Regions from separate parts of the Homo sapiens genome. Here region 1 is linked to region 2. The links come from fine-mapping of genetic effects on gene expression. A gene starts in region 2. The other region holds a variant in brackets. All regions are shown on one strand. Distances are from middle to middle.

Region 1 (16,846 bases), 580 kb after region 2:
TTTTATGGAATGCCATTTTTATTTGGAAGAACAACAGACAGGTAAACTATGGTTTGTATCTTTGGCTGACATTTTCTCAAAAATGAACAAAATGAACCTGTCACTTCAAAGGAAACATGCAGTGTTTCCTTTGCATGTTTTGCTCATGTGAAAATTGAGTTTTCAATTAAAAAATAGAATTTGGAAAGGTTTACCTATACTTTAACACTTGTCTGGTGAGATCAGTCGCCATATTAACAAATGTTATTTTTTCATATGATGTGAAAAATCTGTCAACATTCGGAACATCTGCATAACTCAGTAAACCAATGTCTTCCAAATGACCAATGCATGTCACAAAATCTTGCATGGGTAAAAGATCGATTCAAATTTCAAAATAGACCAGCATATTTTATTATAATAGAGTATGAAAAGTTCACTGATGTGGTTTCAGGTTTCACATTGCAACTAACCCTTAAGGAACTACTACTTTTTAGTTTTGGTGTAATATCAAAAAAGAATATCCATAATTATCTGAAAATCTTAAAAAGGAGGAACAATTAAAATATTCCTCTTTCCAAGTACATATGTATATGAGGCCAGTTTTTCTCACTATTACAGATTGCATGCAGGAATGGATATGAAAATCTAGATACTTTCTATTAAGCTAGATATTAAGATTTTCAAACCATAAGACAATGGTCTTTTTTTAGTACACTTTTCTCTGTTGTTGTTTTGGAAAACAGTTTTTTTTTCACAAAATATGTTGTAAGATTAACATGTAACAAGTTTATTATTATTTTAAATACATTAATATGTAAATATTGAAACTTTTCTCAGTTTTAATTTCTAATATGGTAAACATTAATAAATATAATCCACATAAGCAAAAGTTTTTTAGGGTCCTCAAAAATTCTGAAGAGCAGACAGGGTTCCATAAACTGAAACAATTAAGAATCCATGATTGGAAACAAAGAGAAAGGTAAGACCTTGAGCTTTATATTTAGGAGTAACCAGCACTTATCTGGTGACTTAAACATGCATGTGGATGAAACTGTTCAGAAGGAGTTTATAAAGGGAAACAAAAGGACTCATAACTAAAACTTGAGATTTAATTTTTTAACCTGTCCAAGTCTCTCTCACTTACAAAATGTGAATACTATTATATGCATTATTGTAAATGAGTTAACCTTTACAAAGTACTTGGCAAAAGTAGAAACTCAGTAAATGGTATTTATTTATCTTTCTTCTGGGGGATAATAAAGAATAAGTTCTTTAGACAGTTTTCAGGTGACTATTTAGTCAGGTACTCTTAGTTTTCTTTCTGTAGGAGCAAGTGGTGAGAAGTGAGAGGTGGCAAATGTTAGATTGAGAGAGACAATGGAGAGGTAAGTGTAGCTTGACATCTGCCCTTACTGATTCATAGGTTCAAGTAGTCATTGGCATTAGAGATCATTTGTTTTCTTATTTCTTTTAAATTGAGTTTAACTGTTCTAGATATTTTGTGGTGTGGCAAAAGGAACAAGGACACTAGGATCAGGAGTGATTTAAATTCTGGCCCTGTTCCATACTGAATGCATTACCTTAGGCAGACTCAACCTCTTGAAGCCCTCATTTCCTCGCCTGTAAAATGAAGACTTTGATACAGACCTCAGGTAGGAGTCATATTACACAGAGAGATGGAATTGAAACACCACCTGCCTTACATAATAGGTGCATAATAAATGGCAATTGTTACTGCCGTTTACTGAGGTGTGAGATAGAGAGGGCAACGATCTCAAAAGCAAGAAACTTATGCTTTCAAAATTTATGACTCCAGCAAAGAAGTTATGAATTATAACTGAGAGATGGAACTAAAAGAAAAATGAAAGTAGATGTGAACAATAGAAAGAAAAATATTTTAGAAAAAAATTAGTTTGAAGATTTTGTTTTTCTATTGTGATTCAAATATCCATTTTAATTATTTTCAAAAGCATATACACACATATTTATCTATCTGTCTATCTATCTGACAAACATAAACTTAGGGCAATTGAAATTAAGTGTGGGATGAGGAAAGAATAGGAAAGGAAGAGTGGTGAAAGCGAAAACTACAGATTTCTAGATAGATATGGAGAGATAGCTATGACAGAAGACAGGTACATAAGATGGAGCATCTTTACAAGCTCGAAAGTTGAAAGACCTTGCAATATCACTCAGCCCAAGGCCTGCGTTTTGCAACTATGGTGGTCATGTCATCTGCTAGTCTCCATTTTCTTGGCATTTCTTTATAGGTTATTAATTTAAGGTTGATTTCTTTTCCTAAAGTGCCATGAATATGTTGGAGGCAGTACAGCTCAATAGAGAGCTCAGCTTTGGATCTTGGCTGAATAAAATTTGACCCTCAGCTCAGCCAATTTGGGAAAGTTAATTAATGTGACCTATCTTATTGAGTTCCTATCTGTGCCTGCACTACTTTCTAATGACATGATAGTGAGCAAAAGACACCTATAATACCTGCTTTTATGGACCTTAGGTATCAAGTGGGACATAGGCATTATTTAATAATGACACAAATGAATGTATAATTCCACATTGAAATAATTTCTAGGTTTTATTAATGGGAGTGTGGGGAGTGCTATAGTCAGAAGAAACAGCATATGCGAAAGATTTGTGTCAGGAAGGAGCAAGGAACATTAAAAGCCTGAGAAAGAGCAGGTGAAGACAGTGAGAATACAGATGCCTTTCTTGTGTGTAGACTAGGGACAATAGCACACAAGGTTATTTAATGGATTAGTGACAGCGTATGATAATCTCCAACCATTAGTGGCTACACATCAAATGGTGGTTACAAGGATCATTTTATAATTGCTGAAGAGGTGAAGACTGTTCTTTGAACACATAATGTCAGATCTACCTTCTCTTTAACACTTTGGATGTACTCACCCTTTAAGGCAGACCACTCACAGACAACTGTGTCTCAGTCCCACAACCCTGCAATGCCCAGCAGACCTGTAGTTTGTGGGCAAAATGGAGTGTTTTCTTTCGGTCTTGAACTATGTAGAGGCCTGTTGGTGGAAAAAGGTATGTTGGGAAGGCGTGGTTAAAAGGAAGGAGGAAAGAAATCAAATCAGACCACTGGCAGACAAATATATCTCAGTCCCTACAGCCCTGCAATGCCAAGCAGACCTGTAGTTTGTGGAGAAAATGGAACGTTTTCTTTCGGTCTTGGACTATGTAGAGGCCTGTCAGTGGAAAAAGGTATGTTGGGAAGGTGTGGTTAAAAGGAAGGAGGAAAGAAATCAAATAAACTTAGTTTTCAAAGTCTTTTTTCTCCCCAGACATGTTTTGAAATGTGACATTCCTTTCCTCCAATCTGTCATTTTTTATCCTTCAGGCAAACGTTTAAACCTCCCAACATGTTTCTGCAAGCAACGTTCTGAACAAGGAAGCTAATATAGGAATTTTTTTCTGGCATTATCAGTGGAATTGAATTCAATTGCATAGTCAGGTAGTCTTGCCTGTCTGGTGACATTCAAATGGACTCCAAGGAGAGGGGCCTGTAGCCCAGGAACTGCGGCACTCACAGCCTCAGACCAAATCCCTTCTTCATTCTTGACTTCTCTGTATTTTAGTTGTCCAATCAGATGAATGGGGATAATGATGAATATAGTAATACCTACTTCATAGAATTGTTGTGAGGATTAAATGAGTAAACACAGTAAATGTGTAAAGCCTTTAGAACAGCTCCTGGCACAGAGTAAGTATGTGCAAGTGTGCAGGTGTTAGCTGGTGTTATGATGCCTGAAGTGGCTGCCAGTTTTGCCCTCCCTCCTTCCAACATATACACTTGCACACCCACATGTCCATATACATATATAAATAGAAATAATGTGTATATATATATATATATATATATATATATATATATATATATATAAGCACACAAGATTTTTATGATCTTGTCAGGAAGGATATGTTTTCAGGGTGTCGTATAATTGAAAAGACTTTGAATTTAGTAAGTTTTCAAATACCATAGTTATTTAAAACAACAGACAAAAGGAAGAACATGTTTTAATTTCTACAGCATCTTTCTAGGATCTAGTGTTGTTTCATAACAGTTAGTGCATGAGGTGGAAAGGAGTGGGAGAGGATTATTTTGGGGATAGTTCTTCTTCCCTTTCCTGATATGTGTAAACATCAATCCACATCAACTTTACCAGTTGTCCCGTGGCCCTGGCACCCACCCCAGCAAAATGAAGCCCTAAGGAGAAATTACAGAAGATAGCAGGGAGGGGGGTTGAGAAGCCAGTGTATTCCTTGTGCTTCCTGTGTCCAGACTAAGGTCCCGTGACCACCTTTGCTTGCAGAAGGCTGAGCTCTCCTGAGTAAGAACTCAAGTTTTTTTCCAGTCTTCAGGTTTCTGAGTAATTTTGCCTTTGGGTACACAAGAAGGGATTAACGGACACATTAGCACCTCTTCTCCAAACTCCACATCAGCTGTTATCCGAAACAGCTCACATTTCCATTGCAACCTTACAGCCAGAGGGTCACCTTGTTTCCTGTCAATCTGTCACTGTGAGGATCTGTTTTTTTGCCATTCTTTTATGAAGTTGGAGAACTTGAGGCTGCAGGAGCTTGTGCTCAGTTTTGTTGAAGCTGCAGTTCCAGCACACATATCAACCATTTCTCATTTTCATACATGTTACTACTTGAGTCCTATTTGTGGCTCTCTACATTGCCAAATTCAACACATTTTCTTGGCCACCACTGACATTTGTCATGTTCCCAACTTTCTTTGCTCTAATAATTTGTATTTCCCTAGAAACCCCTATAAAAGGAAATGTTGACACTCATGTATGAGTGAAATGTGGGCTCTACCTGGGGTTAATGGTAACCCCCATATTTCACTGACATTTGTTCCTTAACTACATAGCACGAGAAGTCAGTCCCCAGAAAAATCCCTTCTAAGGTTTTCTAGATTCTCCTGGGAGATTTCAACCCAGTCCTCCCATATTCTTCTCCCTGCCCCCCATCTGCAACATTTTAGGCCATACCAATTCCTCTGCTGTTGGGTTTCTTTATGGAAAAGCTCATATCCAAGTCTGAGACAAAGGTGTTTTATCCTGAGGCTTTCAAAACTGTGAACCCTGGAAAGGCCCAAGTGGTCCATACATCAGTGAGGAGAGGGTTCCCGCTTCCCTTGTGCACATTGCTACCAGGCCCAAATCATACTGCTCAAGTCCAAGGCCTCAGAGAGTTCTTCCTGGAGAAGAAAGGTCCCTCCTCTGCCTCTAGCACTCCTTCTCTTCAGTCAAAAATCTGTTATGCATCTAAGAAATAAAATTGAGATGTCTGGCTTCTGGTCTGGCATGTAAAGAGCTTAGAATTTGTTACTTTGTCCTAACAACAGGTAAAAATCTGAACAAACTGAACAATCAACAACTCTTCTTAGAGAAGTGAAGTCACAGAGTAAAGTGCTGCTCCCAAAATTTGAGAGACAGATAGGCAGACACAGGGAATCACAGCTTACCTAAGCAGAAATCTACTAGTAGAAAACCACCTTGGGCACCTGTGCTGGGTATGGAAACCTGAACTGCATTGATGAGTTGCTGGAGGCTCAGCATGGACAAGCCTGGGAGTTAAAAATCTGGGGTAGGGGACAGTCATGGGGAGGTTCTCACTTTCTGTGAGTTTTAACTCTAGGAGCTCCACCAGGTTCTTACAGTAAATGTTGGAGAAAACTCCACTCATGCTTCCAGGAGAGGAAGGGGAAATATACCAGAGCATCCTGATGTTGCTGGTTCTGGAACCAGACTTTGGAATAGGGTGTTGACCACTGTTTGCTGCTTCTCTTTTCTATGGCTTGACACAAACCACTTCTGCACCTTCACTGCTGAACTCTGTGCCTGTGCGCTGGCCTGCTCGCCTTCACATTCAGGGACCCTGCCATGGCTGAGAGTGAGGGCTACACAAGAATGCATGGCAGTAAGCTGAAGTCTCATCCTTCCCAGCTGAGCTTTGCTTCTGCAACTAGGAGAACTGACATTTCCTCTCCCTTGGTAGTGGTGATTACTCCATAGAAGCACCTGTACCAAATAATTGATTGAGCTAATTCATTAATTCCTCAGATGAAGAGAGGGAGGGAACTAAGACAGGGAATGGGTTAAGCCAATAGTTCAGTGTGCACATGGAATGCTTACTAAAAATGCAGATTCCCCACCACTTCCACCATTGCCTCACAAGAGTCCTGATCTCTTAGGTCTATGGTAGGTTAAGAAACAGCATTTTAAAGAAACACCCAGATGATTTAAGCATAGTAATCAGAGGATCCACTTTGAGATATATTTGATTACATACTTGACCCAAGTTTGCCCAGAGAATGGCATACAATAAATATAAATCATGTCTGTCTTTCAAATATGTTCTTGCACTGTGCACAAGCAATATTTAGGCTCCGAAGAGGCAAGATCGACCAAATGACCAATTCTCTTTCAACTACAACTTGCTGTCTCTTTGCGAATGACTCTGGTAAATTCTTGAGGTGAGTTATGTTTTGCTGTGCATCTATTTCAGCCACTGTTATTTAAGAAAAGGATAACTATAGGCATCAAAAAATATAATAGCAAATTGTGCTTTCTCTAAGGCAACACATTTAAAAACCATATAAATCCAAATATATATCAAATGATGTAATTTAATTTGATGCAATTCAATACATTACAGCACAATACAGCAAAACACAATGTAATGTAGTACAAACCGCACTGCAACTTCAGTGCAGTGGGGTTAACGCAGTCCTCATTTCAGGTCTTGGGCTGCAGCGCCCTCTAGTGACGTAAACTTTTTTTTTTTTTTTTTTTTTGCGTGTTTGTAGTGGCTACAGCTGCACCTGGCACGGAATAACTGTCAACAAACAGCCTGTTCAAATGGGAACGAGCTGAGGCCCAGCTGACTCCAATGTTATATGTCAACAGAAATTCTAGATTAACAGATTTTCCTGAGCTGCCACCTGACCTAGTGATAAAGTAACTAATTGTGCTTTTCATAGTATTAACTGTTTTCACTACATTCTTTTGATTTGTGACAAATAAAAGAAGAACTGTAATCAGCTTGATTTTTTAGCCTGCAGAACAGGAGGCTGGAGTGACAATACAAGGGTATTAGAAACCCTATGAAGATTAATATAAAACAAATACAAATAGAATAGACAATAGAATATAACAGAAATAAAACACTGTATCCTCTAATATACAGTCATCTCCTCTCCATGGTTGAAGAGCAGCTGCTCCTTTGCTATTTGGAGACAGCAAGGATAATGCTAATAATAAGAAATCCTTATTTTAAGAAATATGCATGCGTACTAATAATTTATTGAATACCTAGTATGCTTCAGCCTCTAATGAAATACAGGGACAAGCATGCTAACACACCTTAAGCCATTTTTTCTGCATGTGGGCTCCTTTTCCTTTCTCACACACTTGCTGAGGGTAATAAGGGCTTTATTGAGGTCAGGTACTGTATTAAGCACTTTATTACGCTGTTTTCATTTAAGCCTTATAATCAACAAATGAGGTAGGTATCGCCATCACGATTTTAGGATACTCAGACTGAGTAAGTGTCAATAACAGGTTCAAGGTAATACTGCAGGTAGGCAGCAGGGCATGATTTGAACCTGTTAGTCGGCAGAGTGGTGGGATAGATTGAGGATTTAAAAGAGCATAAAAGTTCAGAGGAGGCTGTTTTGTTGTGGCATCAGCTGGGGAACTCATTAAATAATGTGTTATTTCTCTTTAATGTGAGCTCCCTACTGTCATCCTTTTCTCTCTCTTCCTTCCAGTATTCATAGAGCATCTCCTTTCC[G/A]TGCTATTCACTGGTAACAAACTCTGAAGATACAAACACAGAAGGATACTTTAGTGAGATACTGATTTCTGTTTCCCCAGATGTTTTTCCTTTTTGGATTCCCAGCTCTTATGTTCCCTTGTCTGAGGAGAGGTGGAAAATAAGTTGCTAGAGGCAACCTTCATTTGGCTTTTTGCTTTCTTAAAACATAAGGTATCCAAAAAGTTGTACTGAGGGAGGAAAGAAGGGGGAAAATACAGAGCAGAGCTTTGAAGCATAAGAAGAGGTAAGAGGAGACATTTCCTCAGAATGTGAATAAAACAGTGTCAGTGGATCCTGAGGGTAGCAGTGCCTCATCCCCTGGCAGCCTCTTGGAAGGATAACAAGGAGGTATTAGTACAACTAGCAGTCATAGACATGGGAGCTTCCAGTCTTAGAAAAGGCATCCAAGGCTCAGGGTTCCATATAATTTATTATCCAAACAGGGCCACTGTTGAAAGTGAAAGGAGATGCTATTAATAATTATGCCCAAATAATAGGTGTCAATAGGAACTGTCTGGAACAAGCTGGCACATATGGTCACCCCGCCTATGATCTTTTTGACTCAGAAATAATGGAGTCCCTGCCTTGAACGTCCCTGCCTTGAGTCCCTTGAGTGTCCAGGCGTCTTTGAACAATGAGAATTTCAGATTCTACTGTGTTTGCTTTTCTTTTTAGAAAATATTTTAGAAAATGATTCTGAAATTTATATGAAAATGCTAAGTATATCAAACAAATCTTTGAAAAACAGGAACAAAGATGGAAGACACATTATTTGATTTTAAGACTTACTTATAAAACTACAATATAATCACAACTATGGTATTGGCAAAAAGAGAGATAATAAAAAACAATAGAGTCCAAAAATAGACTAATATATTTATGATCAATTGATCTTGACCATGGAGAAAAGAAGTATTTTAAGCATTGGTGTTGAAACAATTGGGTATTCTATATACAAAAATAAACTTGGATCACTATCCTGTATTGTATACAAAATTAACTAGAAAAAGATCACAGAGAAACTAAAACTGCAAACATTTCTAGAAGAAAACACAAAACCTTGAGTTAGGCAAGGATTTAATAAATAGGATACAAGAACCACAAATCATAAAATTAAAAACTGAATAACTAGATTTCTTAAGCATTAAAAACACTGTAAACATTAGGAAAGATGCTTTAAGAGAATAGTAAGTAAAGACTGGGAAAAATAATTACCAAACATATATGTGATAAAGAACTAGAATATATACAAAATTCTTATAACTCAACATTAGTAAACAAACAACCCATTTAAAAACTGGGCAAAAGAATTGAGCAAATATTTTACAAAAGAAGGCATGCAAATGTCAAGTAAAGACATAAAAAGATGCTCAACATCACTTGTTATCAGATAAAAGCAAATAAAATCTTAATGCAATATTAGTGTGCTCCCACTAAGTTCACACAAAGACTAGGATGAAAATGGTCATAGCAGCTTTACTCATAATAGCCCCTTTACTCATAATAGCCCCCAATTGGAAACAACTCTAATGTCTAAAAAATATTGAATAACCAAAGAAATTGTTGTATATCCATAGAGTGGAATACTTTTCAGCAATAAGAAAGTAGACTACTAATTCTCACAACATAGATTAATCTTAAAACGTTATTCTGAGTGAAAGAAGTCACATACAAAAAAACCAATGTGTTATATAATTCCAATTATAAGAAATTCTAGAAAAGGCAAAACTGTAGTAATAGAAAGCAGGAAGAATGGCTGTCAGAGGCGGAGGGTGGTGAAAGATGTCTAACTAATAGGAACACAAGAGAATGTTTTTTGTTTGTTTGTTTGTTTGTTTGAGACGGGGTCTCACTCTATCACCCAGGCTGGAGTGCAGTGGCACGATCTCAGCTCACTACAAACTCCGCCTCCCGGGTTCAGGCCATTCTCCTGCCTCAGCCTCCCGAGTAGCTGGGACTACTGGCGCCGGACACAACGCCCGGCTAATTTTTTTTTTTTTTTTTGTATTTTCATTAGAGACGGGGTTTCACCGTGTTAGCCAGGATGGTCTCAATCTCCTGACCTCATGATCCGCCTGCCTCGGCCTCCCGAACTACTGGGATTACAGGCATGTTTTGAGGTGAATAATATGTTCTATATTTTTATTGTGGTGTTGGTTATACAACTGTAAACATTTTTCGAAACTCACCAAATTGTTCTTGTAAATTTGGTGATTTGATTATATGTGAATTCTACCTCAGTGAAGTTTATTTTTACAAAAAGGAGTCAGGGAAGTGGGTATGCTGGAGTAGACATACTGTGTAAGACTGAAAACCCCACAAGACGATTATGTCGCATAGAACGTCCTGGTGGGTAGATCACTTGTGAAGGCCACTGGGAACATGTTGGTGAGATTGGCATCAACATCAGTAGATTCAGTGGTATATCTCCCAGGCTGGCTGGAGCTGATGCATAAGGCCATCTGGCTGTACTTAGCCATCAAGAACAAGTGGATGTGATCGATATAATGAGTGGCAAGCTCAGAGTGGTCGGTGTAGGACCCTGACCTGCAGAGAATGATCGTGACGGTTAATAGAACATGGTATATCCTAGAGGTGAATAGCGGGGCCACCAACAAGGACAGTACTCAACTTGTACCATCAGAAGAAATCAAGGTTGGATGGTCAAGAGATTGAGTGCGGTTGTGCCAATAAAATGTCTTGGTCCTTTTCCCAGTTTCCAGACCTAAGCCTGTTTTTAATACTGGAACCCATTAATTAACCCACCTGTGTGGGAGTCATTCCTACTTCCAAATATGTAGCTGGGCTTGATATACATGATAGTTGGTACAAATCTTATGTTATGTCCTTGGTGGGTAGGGTAAGAGCTGTCACAGATGAGAATGTCAAATACAAGCACTTAAATGATCCACCTCCACCCACCTATTCCTGGTCAAAATGGTAAGTAAAAAGCAGGGTAGTATATTAGAGGAGGGAGGGCAGTTGAAAATTGTTGCCACTCTTAAGTATCTGGAAGACATGGTGGGGGTTGTTCCTGTCATATTTCATTTAGCAGTGTGGCTTCTGAAGAAAACAGATGATACTGGTGGACTATTGTCTCCACAAACTCAACCAGGTGGTAGCAACACCCCTAACTGCAGCCACTGTGCCAGACCGAGCAGATGAACCTGGCCTCAGATATGTGGTGGGGAGCTACTGATTTGGCAAGTGTTCTTTTCTATTCCTATCAAAAAAGAGTTCCCGTTCACATAGAATGGATAATCATATATATTCAGAGTTTTTCCCTGAGGCTGCCCCATCTTTTGTAATAATATAGTCTAAAGCAATTGGACTGTCTAGACATCTTCCAGAATATCACACTGATCCACTGTGTCAATGACATCATGGTAATCAGGTCAGATGAGCAAGAATTGGCTGGCACATTGGAGGCTTTAAGACAAATGTGCTCCGGAGGGTAGAAGAGAAACCCTTCAAAGATTTAAGTTCCTGACATACCAGTGCCAGCATATTCCTTCCTGCCCCTATCATATGTATCAGTAGGCCTATCTCCTTCTACGTCCTCCTGATGGTCGGGGTCAAATCCGTGATCAGCATTACCAAGCCATGATGGTGACTCCTTTTCTTGCCTGCTGGTGCCTGCACAGAAAAAGACTGAAGTGCTTTCAGAGGCCATATCTTATAATTCAATAGGATGCTTAGTTGTGGCCTATTTAATGTGTTCTTGATAGGGAACAAAATTTCTAACCTTGAAGCTTCCAGAATTGCCAGGAAAGAAAGCATACATTCCCCAAGTGCATCATTGGGATGGATGTTAAGCAGGACCACTTCTGCTTTCACCTCTTTATTCTCAAACTCATGCAGTCATCTGGTTAAGGTCATTGCACCATATAAGGTCTTCGGTTCAAGGTACATATACTACCTAGATGATGGCTCCCATTCTTGTGGTAAGATATCACCTCTAGGCTGGTGTTTCAGTTGTGCCTTTGGCAGGCCACTCTAATGCTCTATTGGGCTGCTGACCTCTGGGTGATTCAGTTTTTGATACAATCAGTGAATCTCACGGCCATGAGCCAATTCCTTTGTCTCCTGTGTGTGTCTCTGATTAAGCGTGATGTTAGGTGGCACCCCATACCCATGCACTGAACTCAGAAGATCTACTTTAGTGCCTCTTGGTGCTCTCTTGCCCAATTTTGATGGTAAATAGACAAGTGTAGCAATCCTGGCTTGAGAAAGGCACTGCGATCAGGGATGTAGGCTCATTGAGAACGAGTTTCTGGGTCACGTCACCAGGAAAGCCTCTAAGACAAACAGCGGTGGCAGCTGAAAAGAAGGGAGATCTACAGTGAACAATGAAGGAGGGAGACAATCAATTGAAATTCCACAGCCAGTTGCAGAGGCAAGGACTATAGTTCTTCCCACTTAATTGTCTTTCCTAAGTTTGCCCCAGGAAGAGAGGCCATAGAATTCTGGAAGAGCTATTCCCCATATATTGAAAAAAAGTGGATCCCAGCAGTGCTAGGGGTGGACGGAAGTGAACATGCAGCTGTGCCACCCAGATTCTCTTTCATTGCCACTGGAGCACTTCAGCAATCACACCAGCTAGAGAGTCACCTCACCCAAGGTCATGCCCTTCTGGGGCCTGCCCACACCCAGTAACTGATAAAAGTGAAGGGACAAAGACCCATTTGATTCAAGGCAGAACAACTCTGCTGTGCCATTAAAGCAGCAGGAATGATCATTTAAGCTACGACTTAATAGACAGTCTAGGAGAAGTAGATGCACATTTATTTAAAGTTTCTGCTATTGTTTGAAATTAGAATGCTATTAAATTTTCATTACTATGAATAATATGATGGAGATATCTTAAGCATGCAATTTTTCTCTCTTGAAAGAATATTTACAGGATAAAGTCCTAAGAGCAGTGTTACTAACTCAAGGCACATGTATATTTTTATACCTCCTGACCTCCATTGCTTAATTGCTTTTCATTTTATTTTATTTATTTATTTATTGTTTTTTGAAATAGAGTCTCGCTCTTTTGCCCAGGCTGGAGTGCAGTGGTGCAATCTCAGTTCACTGCAACCTCTGCTTGCCGGGTTCAAACAATTCTTCCTGCCTCAGCCTCCCAAGTAGCTGGCACTACAGGTGCCTGCCACCACGCCTGGCTAATTTTTTTTCTTTCTTTTTTTTTTTTTTCTCTTTTTTGGTATTTTTAGTAGAGACGGGGTTTCACCACATTGGCCAGGCTGCTCTTGGACTCCTGACCTGAGGTGATCCTCCCGCTTCGGCCTCCCAAAGTGCTGGGATTACAGGCGTGAGTCACCATGCCTGGCTTAATTGCTTTTCAAAAGAGTCTCACAGGTTTGCTGTGGCATACATAAACATATATGCTTCTGTATAGTCCACACCTTGTTGACTTTTCTAGCTCAAGTATTTGTAGACTCTCAAAAATTCTGCTCAGTTTTTCTTGGCATGAAGAATTGTTTAGCTAATTTTGAAAACTTGTGTTCACAAAGTCTAAAAATTTAATCCAAATTTGAATGAGGAAGATGAGACAGTTTATCAACTTTCTCTAATGAAAGTTACTGGTAACATGAAAAAACAATTTCCTACTCATACAATAAATCTACACATATCTTTTTCAGCCTTTTTGGACTTTGTTGTTGTTGTTGTTTAGTGGAAAGATTTGCTTTATATGATTAGACATTGAAAAATTTGTATGGCTTTGGGAAAGAAAAAGATGCCTCTGACATCCAGGAGCTGGCCTGGCACTCCAGCTATGTCTTAGCGATCTCCTCTTCAAATAAATGATTTCACAGAATACCGACATCAGACAATGCCACCCTATGACCATGGTGAATCAAGACAAAAACAAGACCTCTCCGTAACCATGCATGAACACAGGCAAAGAATGAAATCTGTTTAAATCACAAACATGGCCCAATATCTCCCAATCCTGGCTAATTAGAGTGGCTATTGCTTGTTTATTGCTGACAGTTTTAGCTTGACTCTAGTCTTCCCTCTTCCTAGATAAGAATTATTGAGAGATCCAGTCATGACCTTATATCACTTCCTAACAACATCCGATCTAGAGCAAAGCCATGCTTCTCAAACCCTCCTCCAAATCACGTGACACAAGGCCACATTCTGTAAGTTCTTTCTAATGCCCTTTTAGTAAGACACCCCACCCCCTGCCCCGCACCATGTGTGTTCCTGGAGGAGGACATTGAGAACTTTAAAAATTTACCTTTTAGTAATTTCAGATTAACTTGGTTAGATTTATTGGAGAGCAAAACAATTCTCCCTCAGGTGACTTCCAAGGGATAATTATGGGATAATGTATTAGGTTGATGCAAAAATAGTTGTGTTTTTTAACAGTAGTTTCAATGGCAAAACCCACAATTATCATAAGCTAGCCTTCCAGGTTAACTTTCCTAACTTGTACAATATTTCCTTTCCTGATTTCCTCAATTTCCATTATACTTTTCTTCAGACAAGTTAATAGTCCAATGAAATTTTTTCAAATGCTCAACAATCTTCCTCATTCCCAAATAAATTTTAATATATATGTATAAGCACATATACATGCATATTCATTATATATTTGTATACTTGTCACTTTAGACAATTTGAGTATAGAACTACTTTCAAGGAGATGACAATCCAGTTTGCCTTTGGCTGGTACACTTCTTGCCATTTGCTTATATAGGCATTTTGACATTTTGAAGTTTCCTCCCATCTTGAGTACAGCTGATCCAACTATCTGGGAGTAAACAGAAAGACCAATGGACACCCACAGGAAACATGCTGAGGTGCACATGGAATGTGGATAGGAAAGAGGTCTGTTATGATAAGAAGGGCTGTGGTGAGCATCATAGCCAATGTGGGGAGCCACATTCTGCAGCTCTTGGTAAGTGAGGTCAGTGGAAAGACTTGAGTCATGAAGTGTATATATCATTCTTTCAATTCCTGAGGAAAGCTTCATGGGGGAAACGATTTTGAATAAAATGAGAAACAATTAGTTTGGTCATGTTTTATTTCACAACAAAATTTCCTGTTTTTAGTTTAAAAGGTACCTATGACTAATAACGTTTTCCCCAAATTTTCAGGATATGAAGCTTGTGTTCCTTGAGTTTGACATAAATTGTGCTTCAGGCACTTACACAAGTTGATGAATAGCAATATAATTGACTCATTGTGAATGCCTTTATTCATATTAACCTATTATGATGAATTTCAAATTATAGAGTCTAGATTAGCAGTAGAGCAATTATCTGAGCAGTGAGCTTGTCTAGAGACTATTCTATATTTTTATCTTCAGGAAGATGTCCACAATGGAGCTCCTATTAAGACCATAGCATGCTGAAAGTAAATTCCTCACTTAGAATTATTTCAAGACAACAAAGCATACAGTATTGGTATCCATGTATCAGATAAGACTTTTCAGTTGCAGAGAACCCAACTCCTTGGGAACTAAGCAATAATGTAGATTTGTTGGTTCATAAAACTGTAAACCAAAGGAAGAGCCAGCATCAGACTTCTTTTGGTCAAGATTTTGGCCTCTGTCTTCATGCTGGCTTCATCCTCAGCCTGGCTGTAACCTCATGGTCACAAAGATGGCTGCCGTAACAGCTAAGGCTGCACACTTCCTTATTCATTTCCCAAGTAGAAAGCATCACTTCTCACAATCACCAAATGATAATTCCAGATCTTTACTCAGATTGAACCAAGGTAAATTGACCATCATTGCAAGGGGTGTAAGAATATGCTGAAGACCTTCCCCTGAGCTGGAAGTGGGTCAGTCCACTAAGAAATCATGGTTACTGCGTAATTACCAGGTGGTCACTACAGTTATTTCCTTAAAGGAAAATAGGGGTCCGTTTGGAGAGGAACAGGGGGAGTAGGTGCTGGTTAGACCTGTCAAGCATCTGCCATTTTAATATCTCTATAGAAAATGATATTACATCCTACCTATAAGTGGCAGTATTGGGCTAAAAACGTGGGCTCTGGACTTAGATCGTGGCCATTGAATTCCTAATTCATCACTTACTAGCAACATGGTTTTGTGAAAGTCACTTAACTTCTCCATTTCTCAGCATTTTTATTTGTAAAACAAAATTAACAGACTCTTGTAGAGTTTCTATGAAGATTCAATGGAAAAATGCATATAAAGCACTTAGTATAGAGCTCCTCACTTTGTAAGTACTTGGAGCAACATTTGCATGTGAACTAGCCACTTGATGGTCTCTCTAAGGCATCACTTTTATCTGCTTGGGCATCTGTGTGGTGCCCAGTGTGATTTGGGGGCTTCTCTTTCCATCCTCAGGTCATTTTTATCAGCTACTGGATTCATTTTAAGCAGACTTTTGACCCAGAGACTGGAGGGTGGTCTGATACTATAAAAGCAGTGTGTTCTGGTACATCGTGGTATAAATGTTCAAAAGGAAGCCCCACCAGGGGTTCCCAATAGGGAGTTTCCTTTGCAACGTGAATATCATTCTTAAGTGGTTTGAGAACAGGGTACAGCAGCATCTTACTGGGCATCAGTTTGTGTGCTCCTGTCAGGAAAATTACCATCCAAGCCCACTAAACCCACACAGAACCATAATGTTTTAATTATTCCTTTATTACTTCCTTCAGGTAATTGGAAGGCTAAATATACTTACATGGCAATACTCTATTTTATTTTATTTTAATTGAACTTCACTCTATAAAAGACTTGGAGTTAAGGTGGGGAAAACAGGAAGAAAGGAGGAGGAATAACTAGTTAGTTATTTGTTTTTAAAACTCACCATGTGAGGGCTAAAATCAAAGCTTGGATTACATTTGGGAAAATCTACATAAACTTTGTAATGTGTAAAGTAGGCAAATTAAGAGAGATTGCATCAAGTAACTCTGCCTTGCAAAATAATTCATCTTGTGTATTTACTAAAATGACAAACTTGGTGGTTTTGAAATGTGATTTGTGTTTTTAAGGGAAGCAGTTAGGGCAGAGTAAAGAACT
Region 2 (10,810 bases):
TCACTACTGACATGGTATAACTACAATTAATATTGGAAATATGGAAGCTAAAAGCAAACTTTAATCAAATCTCTCCACTCCCGCCAAACTTAACCACTTCATCCCTGAATATACCTTTTGGAGCTATGTGGTTTTATACTGTGTATGCTCTTGGCCTGTCAAAATAGTCTCCATTTTTCAATCAACTATCTCACAAAGATATTTTTAATCTGTTTCTCTGTTAACCATATTAGTTACTACTGTTTTTTCCTGAAATTTTACTTTTTAGAATACAGTCTTCCTTCAGGTCCAAGAGAATAGGAGTTAAAAAACAAAAACTAAAGTATTCTTAGTTTAGGGGACAGTGTTCTATTTTATTCATCTTTAAATCTCCTGTATCATATATTTTGTACAGAGGAGGCATTCAATAGTTTTTCTGAATTTAGTCAAATTATAGTGTATAATAAGACAGTACACAAAGACATTCTAGGTCCTCCATAATTTCACATTTGCCTATTCTTCCAATTTTATCTCGTTACTCCTCTAGACACCTGCATATTCTGGTCTGAATGACTTTAGTTCATCCAACAAATCAGACTTCCGCATAGGCATGCCTTTGGAAGTACTGTATTATATCATCTGTGTGGAAAGCCCACTTTCCTGGCTGTCCATCTGACACACCGTCTTTTACCCTTCAAGACTCAATACTATTGAAAATGCAGGAAGCTGGCCAACACTGTGGCTTGCACTTGTAATTCCAGCTACTTGGGAGGCCAAAGTGGGAGGATTGCTTGAGGCCAGGAGTTTGAGATCAGCCTGCACAACACAGGGAGATTCTGTCTTGTTCAAAAAAACAAAAAAGAAAAGAAAAGAAAAGAAAATGCCAGAAGCCCTCAGATGTTTCCTCCTAGAAAGAAACATCTGTAAGGCTGTATCTGCACAACCATCCTGCCAGTACTGCTTAAGCAAGGTGCCACAAGTCTTATCTAGGCTGCGTTGATAACCCAGGCAAGCAGCTATTAATCTGGTTCTTTTGGCCTATGGCTGAAGCTTTCGACTTCTTTGATAAGTAAAATTTCAAACCTATAGGTCAACTTTTAATTTTTACCAAATAAAGACATTAAGCTATCACCACGATTTTTTAAAATGTCAGATCTTTTTAACACTAAATATAGGACACAATCTCGTATTAAAGATAGTTGGGAAATGTACAACTATATAAAAATATATGGTTAATAATATACACATAACACAGATTGATACCACAAAGGCCTTTTTCCATTGCTGTAAAAAGGAGAATAATTTTTCGCAGTCTAGTAAGGATTAGAGTTTGGGAAACTGATTGAGGAGTTGATTGAAGCAAGAGGGCTTGTAAGTTCCCAGTGAATGAATGCAGACATCCTTGGGCGCAATCAAGCACCCTTAGATTGGGACTTTCCAAGAACCCAGGCAGACAACTGCACAGAATAACCACAAAGGATAGACAGCATCTTAGCTATCAAAGTGTTTCTACTGTGGCACTTGTTTTCTACCTCCTCTTTCCTGTAGGCTATTACCTGCTGTATCTTTTCCAAAAGGTCAAGATTGTAAATAACCTGTGTCATTTGTTGACCAATATCACAAAAGAATGGCAAAGTGCCTTCATCCTGTGAACCCTGCCCTGACCTTCCTTGATGATCTAGCTCCTTGTACATCATCTTTATATAACAGTTAGTTCACTGACATCATTATTTGATTACAGGTCTGTCTTTTTCAATAGGCTGGAATCCCTAAAGAATAGGAACATACTCTTCTTATCTTTATCTATTTATTTCTTTGCTTTCAGTCCAGCATATGAAACTATCATGCCATATTAATAACTTATGAAAATATAAAAGAGTAGGCTGGGCACGGTGGCTCACGCCTGTAATCCCAGCACTTTGGGAGGCCGAGGAGGGTGGATCACCTGAGGTCAGGATTCCAGACCAGCCTGACCAACATGGAGAAACCCCATCTCTACTAAAAATACAAAATTAGCCAGGCATGGTGGTGCCTACCTGTTAATCCCAGCTACCTGGGAGGCTGAGGGAGGAGAATCGCTTGAACCTGGGAGGCAGAGGTTGTGATGAGCCGAGATCACACCATTGCACTCCAGACTGGGCACCAAGAGCAAAACTCCGTCTCAAAAAAAAAAAAAAAAAAAAAAAATATATATATATATATATATAAAAAAAGAAATACTTTACTGCCAAAACTACAGAATACTCAAACTTATAATTAACATCACAATTTATGTATGTGTGTGTGTGTGTGTGTGTGTGTGTGTGTGTGTATGTGTGCGTATGGTCTTACGTGGATATAATTAGCTTACCTGGCATCTCTTTTGGACCACCCCAACTGATTTGCACGAACTGCAACTTCTTGGTTAAGATGCCTGGCAATAGTTTTTATTTCTGGCTGCAAATTTTCCACCTAGCTAAAAAATAGGTTTTGTTATGAGCACATAAAGGATCTTTATTCATAATGACTCATAATCTTTCACATTATTCCCTCGAGTCATTTAAAAATGTAGTTTACTGATCATATCAAGAAATCTTAATTCTAAGCACAAGATGTTAATTTGCTTAAAATGTCCTCAGTCACAACCAAATTCACAATGCATACTTATCCATGTGATCCTGTGCAAGTAACTTAACCTCTAAAATCATGTTCCCTCACATATAAAATATATAACAGCACCTACTTCACAGGGTTACAAATATTAGATAAGAACTGCACCCTGGGCTTTACTGTTCCATCTCTACATTTCCTAGTAACGTAAGCGGAGAAAACAGCAGTTTGTTAAGAACCTTTAATACACTGTGATAGCCACAAATCAAAAGTAAAAATAGCATTTATTCCTGCCCTGTGCTCATTCTTCCTGTAAAATGGCTCACTGCCTTAATGTTGCTGCTGATTCCGTTCCTGTTTTGTTTCCGGTTTTTTTTCCCCATGCTCACAACCTGAAAACAAGAAAGCCACTATTTTTGAAATATCCCATTTGAATAATCAAGCACTTTAACCCGTATTATCTGACTTGCTCTGATAACGCTGTGAAGTAGGCAAGGAAGGTACTGCTAGCCTGATTCCTCAGAAAAAAGGATTCAGCATTAAAAGGTCAAGTAACTGCGACCAACCAGACACAGTCTTAGTCGGGTCTGGAGAGGAAACAAGTTCGCAAACTGTTAGTCTAGTAGTTTCTTCCTAATAAGAAAGACCAGCTGGAATACTTTGGGACGAAAGACACTGCAGACATACTGGCTATTAAAACTTTTAAGACATAAATTTTGTAGGTTTCGCCAACACAATTTCTTCTGCGACTGATTTCTTTGTCTCCGTTCCCCGAGAGCAAGTATAGTAACCACTTGTGCTTGGAGCACAAATCCAGTAAGACAAAAGAAATGACAGGTACACGTGTCACAAAGTATCTTATTTAACACACCTAATGCTAGTTCAATTTTTTTTAACGCTAAAATGGTCACAATGAAATGGTCACGATGATTAAACACTAAGCACTGCAGAAGGCAACATCGTGCGATCGAAAACCCTGAGTGAATGTCGGCCTTCCTCCGCCGCAGGGGTTGCAGCGCAGGGTACGCGCACGGCTCGGCGCCCCTCACCTTGGCCAGGATGTAGTGCTGGTAGGCTGCCAAAGGCAGCGTGACAGCACCCCGTAAGGCCACGGTGGAGAGCAGAATGCTGCCCCACCAGGGCAGGCCCGTGGCGGCGTGCACGCCGAGCAGTACTTCCTCCGCAACCCGCACCGGCGAAGACGCGGCCAGGGCCTCGTACCAGCCGTTCGCATGTACTGCAGAGACTGGTGCCACTGCCCACACTGGGAGAGTGGGGCGCTTGGCGCCGCTCGTAGGAACCGGCGCAAGCGGCAGGTCCCTAGCCCAAAGCTGCAGGGCAGGGAGCGGCCGCAGCCACCGACCGCCGAGCCGGCACAGCATTTCTGCACCACGGCGGAGCCCAGATCCCGGGCCTCACAATCCAGCGGACATACACCGGCCAGCCAAGGCTGATACGCGCACGCGCCAGCAACAGCGGGCATAAAGCGCATGCGCGCCTGCCTGCAGCCGCGATTGACCTTCCCAGTCAAGCCGGTGACGTCTTGCGTCGCAGTGGATGTGACGCAAGAGATAGGAAAGTCCCGCCTTTCCCACGCGGCACTGGACAGGCCTACTGCGCACACGCGAAAGTTTCCCGCTGCTAGGGTGTAGTTAGTCCGAGGCCGGACCAAAACTGCAGAGACATGGGTGGAGCCTGCTGCCCTCCGCCAGGCTGGGTGTTCTTTAGGGAGCTCTCGCCTTGTAAAGTTCATCTACACCGTGTAACTTACCATTCTTTTTCACTAAAGCTAATAGTCATTTGTAGTGGAATTATCCTTGCTCGGTTTTTTGTGACCAGAAGCTGATCCCCAACCTCTTTACGTGCACCTGATTGCTTCCGTTAGCGATTACGATAGATTATCATACTCAAGAGTCACACGTTGCTAAAGTACCTGCTTGTAGAGAGACGCATGTTTCTTGCTGACTCTGAGTGTTAAGCACGAGGGATAGTTCAGTCTCTTGTAGATTTAATTGGCCCATCTGTTCCAGTTAGTATTTGGACCACCAACTGCAAACTGAATTTCTTCGGTGTTTTGTCTTCCATGATAAATAGCAGCAAAAATCTTATAGTAAAAGTATCATCTCTTTATTTAAGGGAAACTATCACTGGCAGTACGGTGAATTCCTTGAGTTTACTTGTATCCTATATAAGCTTTAAAGAGCCTGAACAGCAGCACTGGCTGTCTTCTGGTTTAAAGGAATACGTTGAATCTACATGGACTATATAGTTTTAACTTTTGTGTTCCTGGAAACAACAAAATGGAATGTTGTGGAGGAGTTTCCTCACCGAAGGGTCACCCCTAGACTACAGACTAAAATATGTTGTGAGGAGTAAACCTTGATTTTTATTTATTTATTTATTTACTTACTTAGGAAAAGAAGCCTCCAACAATGTTGGGTAATGTCAAACGCCAGCTATTGTTTGCCCTTCACTGTGCACCTAACCAAGGGTACCCTACGATAACTTTCTCAGGATTCTGGAATTCATCTGCTTTCCAAACTGACTGATAAATCTATACATGAATTTTTAAATGTGTTTAAACACACAGCACAACACACACTATATATAAACTTTTTCTAAAAGAAAAACCTACCAATCTATTTCTTTATCCATTTATTAAGCTAACAAAAAAGCCATCAGTTGCTACTGACTACTGTTCAGCTGTTCATAATCTGAACAGAATTTTAAAGTTATTTTTGCTAGACACAGTGGATCACGCCTGTAATCCCAGCACTTTGGGAGGCCAAGATGGGAGGATACCTTAAGGGCAGAAGTTAGAGATCAGCCTTGGCAACATGGCAAGACCTCATCTCTACAACAAATACAAAAATCATCCAGATGTGGTGGCTTGCATCTGTGGTCTCAGCTACCAGGAGGCTAAGGCGGGAGAATTGCTTGAGCCCCCCGGAGTCCAAGGCTGCAGCGAGCAATGATCGAGCCAGTGCACTCCAGCCTGGGTAGCAACAAGATTCCCATCTCTTTAAAAAAAAAAAAAAAAAGCAAGAAAAGAAAAAAAAAAAGCTGTAAGCTGTTCTTCAATTCCTAAGATTTAATTTTGTGGAGTTCTATCGGGGTCACAAATGAGATTTCAGTGTTGGAACACATTTTTTGCTATACATTGTGTTCATATATTACATTCTTATTTTAAAAAGTATTTCCTTAAGTTTGAATATTGATCTAAATAAAATTTATGAATATTTAGTTTCTGCTAATTTCATATATGTGTATAAACACATTTCTTAATCTATATAACAGGGATGACTAGAACTTGCTATCTACTTGGTAGAGGATGTTGGGGGAAGTAGTTGTCAATTTTAAAGCCCAATGCAAAAGAAAAGTGTTACTACTAATGTATAGGTACTGTTTATACAACATTGTGATTATTTTGTATCTTTTGTTTCAGAGTACAGTACAAAATGATCTACAACTATTGAGTGGACCAACTGAAATCATTTGTCAATCCTCTTTGCAAATGAACTTGTGCAATGTATTAAAACATTTTTAAAGGTTCAACATTTATAATTAGCTTATTCCAGTCTTTGATATTAGTGTTATGTCAGTTAATTTCTCAACTTTAAATTCCTTAAGAAGAGACTACGTATTACATTTTCTTTCTGCAGTCTCTGTAATTCTTAACCATCATGGTGCCAAACACAGGAATGGAGCTTGCTATGGACTGAATATTTTTGTCCTCCCCAGATTCTTTTTTGAAACCCCAAGGTGATGGTATTTGGAGGTAATTCGTCTTAAGGGTAGAGCTCTTGAATTGGGTAAGTGCCCTCATAGGAAGAAACAAGGCTGGGCATGGTGGTTTACACCTGTAAATCCCTGTGCTTTGGGAAGCTGAGTGGGGAGGATCACATGAACCTAGGAGTTTGAGGTTGTAGTGAGCTATGATCATGCCACTGCACTCCAGCCTGGGTGACAGAGATCCTGTCTCTTGGAAAAGACAAAAGCAAGATGACCTTTTTCTGCCCTACACAAAGAAACTGAAAAGGAAACAGCCATCTGCAAACCAGAGAAAAGGCCCTCAACAGAAACCATAAAGGCTGGCATGTTGACGTTAGACATTGTAGCTCTCAGAACTGTGAGAAACACATTCTGTTAATCTCCTCAGTCAACAGTATTTTTGTTGTAGTAGCCTGAATTAAGTGCTGAAAATTTGAATATGGGGTGTAATTATCATGTAATCATTTAGTCTTCTCTTTTCCCAAATATGCCTTCTGAAATGTTTGTCAAACTAAATGACTGTAGCTTACTAGGGTATATATAAAACAACAACAAAACACCTTTAAGAAATAAACTATTTCCATGAGCAATTGTTAGTGATCCCTTAGAATCAGATTAAGATTTCAGTTTTTCTTTCTTACTTAAGGCACTACTTCTCAAAACCAAAGCTACCTAATTTAGAATTGGCTTTTTTCTCTTTATTGAAAGACATCCCCTTGCCATCTTTCTTATTATTGGTTTTCAAGCATTGAAAATGCAAAGTTGGCTTTTGTTTTTCAGAAGTGTGAATCCATTTAAAAGCAGAAGTATAATATGCAACCTCCTACACCACAGATATTAGGTTTGTACTTTGTTACGTTACAAAGGTATTCTGTCAAAGCCACAGTAGCACATTTTCTTTTACACTTATCCAAAATTCAAGTGATATTTTTGCAATCAAGGTGTGCAACACATTAAGACTTATTAAAGCACTGATAATGCTCCCATCTTAAATTCCAGTCACCTGAGTTAATCAAATGCTGTGACTTAAGCAAGCATTTATCAATAGTATATGTATTTCCAAAGACATTAAGGAACATTCGGAATTTAGTGTCAAGGACAGCAAACATTAAAAGTGTAAGATATCTGCATAGATTCATTTACGTAAGTAAAATATACTGAGAATGGAATACTGAATTTCTGCTTATAGTGATTAAAAGCAGTGACTTGGTTGTTCTTTGCTATTTTAATCATTTTGAAATAATCCTGATTTTAAAATCTGTTATTAAAACAATGTTTTGGTACACTTTAAATGTTCTGTAATGCCAGATCTGTGGGAATAAGTGTTGTGAAAAACATCAACATGAAAATAGATTTAATAAACTAGAGGATCTGAAGAGATTTTATAACTTTGAGTTTTCCTGTTTAGTCTAACACTGTACTGTTTTAAAAATAAGTAATATAGGGTACAAAATTTTTACAAAATGTGTATTTAGGTTATTTGAGTCAAAACACGGATGGACTATTATTTTTGTGAAGAACAAGACAGGATTAGTTAATAAGCTATTTACCTTTTCCAAAGGAGAAAAATGACTATACGTAGTCATTTACAAAAAAATTAATTTTCATGTATCAATAAAAATGACTTGACTTTTCAGTAATGGGAAATAGGAGGGGAAATTTCTTCTTTATAAACAGTGAAGTCAGTGTTTGTAAATATGTTGATTATGTTGAAATGTATGTTGAAAAGGCATGAAATGTGGAATTTTGTTGGGAATGGATGGTATAAACTGATTATACAATAATTGAGATATTAACTACTTGGGGATTTAAGGTGTGAACTAACCCAAGTGTAATGTCCAAGAGTTAAATCATTTCTTAAAACAATGATGTAGTCTGCATATACACATACCACATATTTTCAAAATTAAAAAATAAAAGACCTTCATGGTCTCAAAAAGTTATGGGTTTTTTTATTGTTCAAATAAAAGTGCACTGCATTACATCTGAAATATAAAAAATGTATTTTAAAAATGTTCCTAGTACAGACTTCTAAAACCATGGTATTGTACTAAACAAGCCTGATCCCCAAGACTAAATACGGAGCATTTCAATCTATATCCCCTGGCCCCACAGGTTTGAAGTCAAGAAAATATAGGAGTTTTCCCCCTCCTTTTTAAATAAAATACCTCACCTAAGAAATTCAGTATTGTGAAACAACACAACTCATGTGTTGTAATAAATATTGGATAGCATCTGTTCTCCAGCAGGATTACCTTAAATAGAAAATAACCCTAGTTAACACAGGAAAGAATTAAGAAAAAAAATTTTATGTATAGAATAGTGGCAAGTCATATATAAAATACTTCGTTAAATAACATTATTACATCCCTTTTTTAGTAAAGTGCTATAATTTTATTTCATAGCTATATTTATTTGTAGGCTGTCTTTTAGCTCTCCCTTTAAATTTGGGCATATTAAACATAGGTGGAAAAACAAATTTATATATTTTAAGACCACTTCTTAAACTAAAAGATATGAGTGTACTGTTTACAAATTTCTGGATATGTTTGAGAAGTCATCTTTTTACTCTTTACTCAGGCTTTACTCTTTACTCAGATGGAAGAAATCATTTGATTTACTTGACAACCAAGGAACCATGTTAATATCATCAACTCTAGGTGATTTATATGAATTTTAGTTAGTTTTTATGTTTTACCAGTGTGAAATTTTATGTCTAATTAAAAAAAAAGAAGACAAATTGATATATACATTACTCGATTTTTATGCTTACTTTCTTTTACATTTCAACCATATAATTAATTTTTCCATGAGACAGGGTAGGACACATAATCTTCTTGGATACATTACTGTTTATTGTTTCAAGTGGATGGAATATATAAATCCCACTGAGTAGTTTAGTGTGGCCTTGTATCTTTTATAAACAGGTTAAATGGAGACTTTACACTGTAATCTGTGTATTTATCTGTCTACCATAAATTGTCTTCGTGACAAATGCAGAATTTCTTTTATTACTTGGCTCAAATTAACTGTTGATCCTTTTCACTGATAATATACAAGGGTAAAAAAGCAGGAAGCCTTTAAAATTGAAAAAAGAAATAAGATATTTTCCACTAAATTACTGAAAATTGAAATTTTTATGTTGACTGTTGATGACTGAAAAGCCAATGTTAAGAATCAATATCATCCAATATAAAATAGTACATTGAATTATTTAATAAACAGAATATTAAGAGCTTGTATATGCTGACTGGGAACAGTGGTGGCTTTTTAAATTCTCAGAAAGTTTAAACATTTTATAATTAGAAGAAACCACTGGTGATGATGAAGATGGTCCATCTCTGTAGCAGCCATTACAGTGAAAATCTTGACAGAACCTTTTCACTATCAGAAAGATAATTTTACTGGTATTAGTGGTAAAGGTAAGGAGAGAAAAAGGAGTGAGGAGATAAGTCTGTATTAGTTTTAAAAGTGAGAAAAGGTAATAAAACAACATGGAAAAGCCAGAAATTTCTTCTTCTATATGTGCCTTGCTACAAATAAACCAAAAAGAAAGCAAGATGGGTATTTTAAAAGCCAATGTGGGGAAACATCCAATGATAATGCCCATTATTTTACTTTATACTTAAATTACACCAGTAGAAAAGTTATGCTTATTAATAGTTTAATGTATGAAGGAAACATCCAGATTTCTGAATATGAAGGTACATATCTCACATTAATTTAAGTCTACATAAAGTAGAGCCTCTATACTGACATATTGAAATTTACTTTCTGCTTAGCCTTTTCTGTTATGTAAACAATTGTACATTTATTTGCCATTCTAAAACTTCAGGATCAAGTTTACATAATTTTGCTAAATTTCCGTGTTTGCTCAGAAGCAGTTTACAGTACTAAAACCAACCAGCCAAAGAACAGCTTCAACAGAAAGTTATGTCCAAAGGGGAAGAGGGAAAGAAAAAAAGAAAAATGATAAGAAAAATGCTAACTAAGGTAAAACGGATGATGATGGGGAATGGGCAGTCACAAATGTTCACAGAAAATAGGTCAGTTAGTAAGATCTTCTGCAAAAAGCCTACACACTTCAGTCAAGCACATCAGTAGAATGATTTGGGAGCATAATTTTTTTTTTCGGCCACTTGTGATTTCCTCCAAATGAAAAGGAATCTGCAGGCTAACAAGCTGATCCTCATCAGCCAAGCTGGTTCATATGCACACTGTTCATGTGAGGTGCCCAGGGTCCAGTCCACACCTATGAATATAGAGCATGCATTTTACAAAATATATATCTAGCATATATTTTATTAAAATAAAACTTTTAAAAAACTAAGGAGGTACTCTTCAATTTGCAATATACTAGGAACTAATGGAAAAAAATGATAAAAACCTTTTTTCTATTATTTTCCTACCTCTTATCCCTCAAACAGAATCTGATTTACAACCTTTAAAAAAAAAATCATTACCTGAGCAT

Evidence for each region. PIP is the estimated chance that this variant, and not a neighbour inherited with it, causes the effect.
Region 1: its variant is fine-mapped to the expression of COX18 in whole blood (INTERVAL, PIP above 0.99).

Annotation. Positions count from the first base shown.
Region 1 is chr4:73,647,050-73,663,895 of GRCh38, forward strand. No RefSeq gene overlaps it. Among named protein-coding and RNA genes, the nearest start is that of RASSF6, 35 kb to the left of the region's middle. RefSeq lists a silencer at 14,578-14,783. The variant G/A (reference allele first, on the strand shown) is at 7,822.
Region 2 is chr4:73,065,700-73,076,509 of GRCh38, forward strand. COX18 (cytochrome c oxidase assembly factor COX18) reads right to left here and starts at 4,017. Exons shown (of 6, transcript NM_001297732.2): 1 at 3,618-4,017; 2 at 2,330-2,430. The coding sequence starts at 3,950. ANKRD17 (ankyrin repeat domain 17) reads right to left here. Exons shown (of 34, transcript NM_032217.5): 34 at 7,677-10,591. The coding sequence ends at 10,532. LOC112268467 (a long non-coding RNA gene) reads left to right here and starts at 4,247. Exons shown (of 2, transcript XR_002959797.2): 1 at 4,247-4,330; 2 at 6,014-6,123. RefSeq lists enhancers at 3,336-3,851, 3,786-4,305, 3,852-4,368.